Linked DNA regions of Homo sapiens. The protein of the gene in region 2 purifies or fractionates together with the protein of the main gene of each other region. This does not show direct contact. Each region holds a gene or a part of one and is shown on either strand. Other genes may lie near its edges.

Region 1 (3,824 bases), on a different chromosome or scaffold from region 2:
ACTTCACATTACAGGTCTAATATCATAGTATTCTTATCTATTCAAACCAAAGAAATGAAAATAAACAAAAATCTACTCAGACCAATTGCTATTTATATTTCTTCTTTTCCTTCACTCATTGTAATAATTAAGAATCATACACAAAATCACGGACTTAGTTTTCAAAAGCCTCTGTCTTCATTCAAGCCTCTACCTGAACCTCCCAAATTAATGTAAAATCTGTATAGAATTAATTGACTAATAACTACATTGGATGTGATAATAAGTGGGAAGAAAGTAGAAGCACCGTAGAGAAGGCAAACCCAAATGAAGTGTTAAAGGTCACAAGTGACACAGAAGATGTATCTCCTGGTACAGAAAATAAATAAGTGAAGCTTCATCTGAGTTTAATGATTTCAAACCATATTTCCAAGAAGTACCATCTCTGGTTCAGTCAGCTAATTATACAGACTCCTGGGAAAGCGAAACTGAGAAAGCAGTAGTAAACAAGCGGTAATCCTGACTTACGGCAGCCCGGGTATCCAGACTGAATAAAAGGTTCCAGTTCAATGAAAACTGCAGCATTTCATCCTTCCCAAGATGTACAGCTATTAAAATTGCCAGGGAGTGAACTGAAAGACTTCCCTTCTAGCTTACTTATTTCATCCAGGAACAATTTCAAAACCTTGAAGTCTCAGGCAGAAATATAATACCCGGTTCTTCTCTCCTTTAGGACCTATAAAATATCACTCTCTACTCCTGATTTATATTTGAGTGGTTTGTCTTGATAATTTCTGAAAAAGCTCATTATACTGTTATTAACCTAATTCAGGATTTTAAACATCTGCATCAACCTCAGAACTGGCCTTTCTAACAGAGAATTGTGAATAATGTAAAGGGCAATGAATTTAGAACTCTAGAACATTCTAGCTTTGGTTCTCACCTTAACCTGTGACACTGAGCCTCATAACATCTCAAATATCTCTCCTCCTCTTTACATCTCCATTACCATGACCTTCAATTTAGGCCTCATCATCTCCTTCCTCTCTGTCACCACTGTCCTCATTCAAGCCTCACCATCTCTTAATTTGACCATTGCTCAACAGCTGCCTTCAAATCTTGCCCACTCCAAGCCTTTACCCACCTAGTCTACAGAATAGATCCCAAAATGAAAATCTGAAACTACTTCAAAGGTTCTCCATTCCTTATAATTTAAAATCTACAAAACCTGAAATCTTTAACATAACTTATCGTGACCCTTTTGATCCAGCTTTTGACTACTTTCCTGGCCTCACTTCCTACTTCTGCCTGTAAATACACTCTCCACTCCAGCAACACTGAACTTCTTGCAGCTAACGTGAGATTGATTCCAAGTCCTCTTACCTCCTGCCCTTATGCATGCTGCTCCTTCTGGCTAGAATGGTTTTCCCCATCACTATAAACTTCTAATTAACCTTCAAGTTTCAGATTAAACACATCGTCTTGTGAAGCTTTTCCCAGTCTCTTCTCTCTAAATAGGCCTGAAATTTACATTTCAATTCTCTGTGACTCATGCACGTATCTCTAGATACACAATGCTCAAGGTGTTTTCCTGAGGCCCTTAAAGGCAACAGCTGTCTTATTCATATCTCTGGTCTCCTTTCATGGTGCCAGATTTAGCATGAATCAATAAAAGTGTTTATTTACAAAATAAGGGAAGCTTAACAAAATGATTAATAAAGTCCTCTCTACAAATAATAAACAGAAAGACAAACCCTTCCTATAAGTTAGCAAAAATGACTGGCTTTCCTTTTTACCTGAATATGACACTGAAGTAAATTAAGGGGTTCCTTCCATTTTTCCTTTACCCCTTCCTCCTCAACACAGTATCTGTGGTTAAATCTACCCACATTAAAGATTTAGGATGTAAGAGCCACTCTCAAAGAAGAAATGTATCCTGGGAGCTTTATAACACTGAAACAGAATAAAAGTCACTGTGCCAAAAGAAACCTGAGAAATAATCATTTCCGTTTATCTGTGTGTTAAAGGAGGCTACTAGAGAGAACTTTTGTCAGACACTGAAGTTATGAAAAAAACTGAGTCTACACTTCAGAGCTTTTCAGAACATTCTGCTATGTACTGAAAAGCAAGGAAAGTAAGAGCGGCAAACACAGCTAGAACATAGTAAAGGAACCAATACAACCCATAAAGTTATTTGATGTCCACTATTTCACTGGATCCCCCAAAGAAACTATGAGGCAGAGGGGACAGAGATTATTATCCGCATGTTATGGGTAAGGAAAATAAATTCAGAGAAGTTGACTAACTGGCCCAAGGTCATAACAGCTAAAAAATGTTAAAATTCACACCATCATCAACATGTCCTTAAACCTGGTCAAGTGCTCCAACAAAAACAAAACATTTTCAAATCAAAAAAACTGTTAGACATCCAGGGTAAGATTTGTAATCTAACAGTAGAAGGAATCAGAGGAACAGAAGTAGTCTCCTTCTCCCCTGCCCTGGTTGCTAGCTCCACAGAGAAAACCAGTCTTGCATCACCCCTCCCACCTCCCAAATCCTCACAGGTCTTTGTAGCGCTTCTGGAGCTGGGCCTGCGCTTTCAGATCTTCCTCTTGGAGCTGCTTAGCCACCTGGAGATCATGCTGGACCAAACGGTTCCGCTGAACGTTCGATGCCAAATGATGCTCAACTGGAACAAAAAGATTGAGGACAGGAATGAATAATGTCTTGGTTTGTTAGTAATAAATGCCATAATAATCTTAAGAGCTTTACCATAACAACAGCTTTGCATCCATCACTTCATTTTATTGTCTCAACAACAATATATAATAAAGAGCAAGGAATTATTATCCCCACTTTTCCATTAAGTAAAAAGAGGATCAAAAAGATTAAATAATTTGCCTTTGGTCACACGGCAACAAAGTGGCAGTGCCAGGACATCTACACAAATATTCTAAAGCCAGGGCCAATGCTCTTTCTACTACTACATGTTGTCACTCTATTTATTAACCGCATTTTTCAAAATGTCAATTTTATATTGATATGTGAATTCACAAATCATATATTCACAAGTATGTACTTTAATATAACATGCATAGCTTAGATTTACTTTTCATCACCACATGGAAAAAAAGATTCAGAAAAATTCACAATGTGATCTCATTTATACCACAGTTGCCTGGGAAAACTGTTCAAGTCCCTATCCTAGGAGCAAGAATAGATTCCTTCTACGCACCCCAGATAAATCTACAACCATTGTGTCCCTCCTACAACAAGAGGCTAGGAAAAAGGTTCAAACCTCTCTTTTTCCTCCTACAGACGCAGCAGTCTACTAATTCCTGGCAGCCTATCTTACTTAACATGCCCGAAACTTCACTGATCACCCAGGCATCATTTGCCTAAAGAAATCCTTCAGGATGTATGGATGGTGAAGCCAAGTGACTGTGCTCTCTCCCCACCTAAGCCCTAAGAAACCAGCCTCAAGCTACCACTAAAAAAAGAAAACTGAAGGAGCATAAATGAGAGGTATTACTCACTCTCTTGTTCCTGCAGGCTGTGAGCCAGGGTGTGGTCCTCCAGGACAGCAAAATCTCGGCATACTAGAGTAGATGGAGGAAAAACAGACAGGAAGGCTCATTAGTAATACTTTAACATACAAAGGAAAGGATTTTTTTTTTTTACTTTAAAAAAAATCAATTCTAATATTTCAGAATGACACACTTTATAATTCTCAATGCATAAAATAGTGACTAGTTAAGTATGCAGTCTTTAGTCACAAAAATCTATAGTGCCTGCTTAGTGCCAAGCACAGGGTGTCACAAAATACTGGTTAGCCTTGGCCCCTG
Region 2 (3,824 bases):
GCCAGTTGTAACAAGAGAGGATGTTGAAGAAGCGATGAAGGAAAAATGGAAGTTTGAAAGAGACCAGGAAAAAAACTTGAGAGGTGATTTAGGAACATAGAAAACTATCATAGAGTTGTGCCAAGTTATTTCTTGAATATATTAATGCTTTATTCTTCCAATATGTTCAAAATGCTGTTAAGTGTATTTTAAACGGCATCATTACCACCGCAGCCACAAACACATGTAGGTAAATGGGCAGGAGAGGGAAATAATAAAGTGGGTAGAGGTAATGAAGCCAAGCAAGGAGGTGGAAGAAGGGTAGTGATCAGAAACAGATGAAATTTATCTGACTGTTTTTTTTGGGATAGGGTGTAGTTCAGTCACCCAGGCTGGAGTGCAGTGGTGCGATCTCAGCTTACTGCAATCTTAACCTCCTGGGCTCATGCAGTCCTCCCACCTCAGCCTCCCAAGTAGCTGGGACTCCAGGTGCACACCACTATGCCTGAGAATTTTGTTCCTTTTTTGTAGAGATGAGGTCTTGCTATGTTGCCCAGGCTGGTCTCGAACTCCTGGGCTCAAGGGATAGTCCCACCTCAGTCTCCCAAAGTTCTGGGATTACAGGCGTGAGCCACCATGCCCAGCCTCATCTGACTCTTACAACAGGACAGTATCTTGTTAAACACCATTACTCATAGTAGGGTTTTGTTCTTTTTCTTTTTTTTCTTTTTTTTTTTAATTCTGTTGTTTGGTGGTTTCATTGACTTCAGCTTCAGCTTAGATTTGGGAATGATAAGGCAAATAAAACCATGAAAAATGTTTCTCCCAATATCTCTAAGGGAGCCAAGCACCCCATTAGATGGAGGAAATAGGGATTAGCGTTGGGAAAGGGGAAGTTTGGAGAACATGGGTAGTAATGACACTAGGTGCAGGCAATGAAAGACCCAGGGCATACTCTTGCTGTAGGCTTAGGAAATACCATGGTACTGAGGGTAAATCATGCAGTTCTGACATACACATTTTGAAATTCCTATTCTTTCATTCTAAACTTGCTGCTAAGATTTCTAGGACCACTTTTGCCAAAACCTCCATAAATAACATCCCTGCTAGGAAGCTGGAAAACATGAGAAAGAGACCTAAGTGCTATCATTTGTTAGCCCTTAGGAAATCCACGTATTTCTGGATTTCTCCAAGTGCCTACTTAGCTGAGCACTTTGCACACAGCAGGCTCTCCACTCAATAGATATTTGCTGTTTTGAGTGAAATCGTTTCCAAGACCAAACATCAATAGGCAAGTTTCATTTTTAGGGGAGTCCAAAACTGTTCCCATAGACCTCCTCCTACCCAAGTCTCTTCATTGGCAATAGGGATGTCATGACATGGTAGATAGTATATTTTGCATGACTTCTTTCCAAAAGAGTTCTGCTTATATTTGGAAGGAATACTTTAGTAAGTCCCTTGAGATGGAGTGAGACCCCAAAGGATGCTCAGCTGTGCTCGCTAAACTGCCTTCTAAAGGAATGGGCCCAGTTAGTTGAGATGCGCCTGTTGATGGTTTGGGCTGAGCATGGGGATGTGTCATACAAGACTGGGCCACACGGCATGACTGAGCACAATAGAGGAGGACTGGACATGCATGGGAAGAAAGGAAGCTCACAGACATGGAGGAAGAGAGGGAAAGTAAGAGAACAGAAGTGTCTGGAAAACATTTCCGAGGTAGTCACTTTATGTCCCAGGTAGTCCCTTGCAACTCATTTTGGTGTGGAGCAGCAGCAAGTGCTTCACCTATCAGCTTGTTACAATGCCAATTCCCAGGCCCCACCCAGACCTACTGAATCAGAATCCGCATTCTGACAAGATCCCAGGGGATTCCTATGCACAGTAAGGTTTGAGAAATACTGCTGCAACCCTTTTCATCCAACTTTTAGTAAGGACTCTTTCAGTTGCAAGGATAAAAAATCCAAGTCAAACTAGCCTAAGCATAAAGGGGATGTTAGTCTTTTCACATCACTTAACACAGAAAGACAGAGTGCTTCTGACCTGGATACAAGGCTTCACATGCTGTCAGATCTCAGCTTAAACAAACAAACAAAAATCTCTGGGGCGTATGTGTTACTAGAAGGGAAGGGAAGAAGTTCTAAGAAAGTAGAAAAACAGCCACTACATCCATCTCCCTTTTACAATCTTCAGTGACATCTACCAACCCTCCCCTCAAAGGCCAAATGGGGCACTGGCCTGAGACAGTAGCAGTCTGCTCGAATGAGAGAACAACTACCCATCTGGCTTATAGTAGTACTGATAATTGTTTAATGAAAATAACCACCATTTGTTAAGAGATTTTAAATATAGTATCTTGTGGCCAGGCATGGTGACTCATACCTGTAATCCTAGCACTTTGGGATGCCAAGGCGGGCAGATTGCCTGAGGTCAGGAGTTCGAGACCAGCCTGGCCAACATAGTGAATGAAACCCTGTCTCTACTAAAAATACAAAATTAGCCGGACGTGGTGGTGGGTGCCTGTGATCTCAGCTACTTGGGAGACTGAGGCAGGAGAATCACTTGAACCTGGGAGGTGGAGGTTGCAGTGAGCCGAGATCGCGCCACTGCTCTCCAGTCTGAGTGACAGAGCAAAACTCCATCTCAAAAAAAAAAAATTAGTATCTTGTGTACATCTTTGGAAAAAGATGAGTCCTGAGTCCTTCTGGACCTCTGGACTGAAGAATATCACCCTGGCCTGATTGAAATGCTTCAGTCATTCAACAGACATTTATTGAGCGCCAACTAATTGCCAGGCTCTGTGCTAAGTGCTGGATTTACAGAGATGAATATAATGTAGTCTTTCCTTCAAAGAACTCTCAAACAAGGTGATATATGGTGATGAGATAAACAGCCATTAAGTTTGTTGTACTTGACTCTTTTGTAATGCTTCTTTTTCAAAAATATTCAGCAACATGATATTCGGCCTAAAGATTGAATAGAATATCATGTTTAGCAAACAAAGTTTATATCCCTGAAATAGTTCAGTATTTGTACACATTTAACTGGGGAACTTGCCCATCACTCTGGTTTTACCAAAGGGGGGTGGGAAAAGACATGTTATTATGACTATCAGAGGCTATCATTTCATACAAGAGAAATCCAAATAAATGAACTTTAGATGACTGAATCAAACAATTTACTTACAAAAATGGTTGCCAAGGACCTGGGAAGGACACAAGTTGAAATCACTTTTGCTCAGAGGGTATAATGGCCAGAAAAATGACAATTTCCTAATAAAGAATACATATTATACATATTATATGATACACTGTACAAAATAGGACCCTTATCAGGAATGATGTAAACTTGCAGCTTCCTAGGCATATGGGTTGTCTATTACGTCTTTCAATCAACCCTCAAACCACACATCTACTTTGTAGTCAGAAGTTTAATTTTGCTTAGATTTTGAATCAGGGGAGATAGATAAACAACAGTTTGAATAGTTTAGAATTTCCTAAATTTTAGATATAAAATAGTATTTATGAGTTAACAGTATTTTAATATCAGATCTTAACTTCTTAAAACCAGATTGCAACATATAATGGTTACAAGGAAAACAGAAATGACACAGTGTCTTTATTTTCAACAGATATGCGCATGCAAATAAGTAATGCTGAGAAACTATTTCTTGAGAAACTCAGTGAAAAGGAATATTGGGAGGAGTACAAGAATGTAGGGAGTGAACGACATGCTAAACTCATTACCTCCTTACAAAATGACATCAACACAGTTAAAGAGAATGCAGAGAAAATGTCAGGTCAGTTGCAACAAAACTAGTTCAAGTTCAGTAAAAAACATCTTTAGTA

The links.
Region 1: the proteins of CCDC83 (region 2) and CCDC50 purify together in Homo sapiens (affinity purification with mass spectrometry; one large-scale study listed by BioGRID and IntAct). This does not show direct contact.

The regions. Positions count from the first base shown.
Region 1 is NC_000003.12:191,356,842-191,360,665, reverse strand, and holds part of CCDC50 (coiled-coil domain-containing protein 50 long isoform), read right to left. Parts: intron 3,579-3,824; coding exon 3,516-3,578; intron 2,669-3,515; coding exon 2,542-2,668; intron 1-2,541.
Region 2 is NC_000011.10:85,882,593-85,886,416, forward strand, and holds part of CCDC83 (coiled-coil domain-containing protein 83), read left to right. Parts: coding exon 1-83; intron 84-3,607; coding exon 3,608-3,775; intron 3,776-3,824.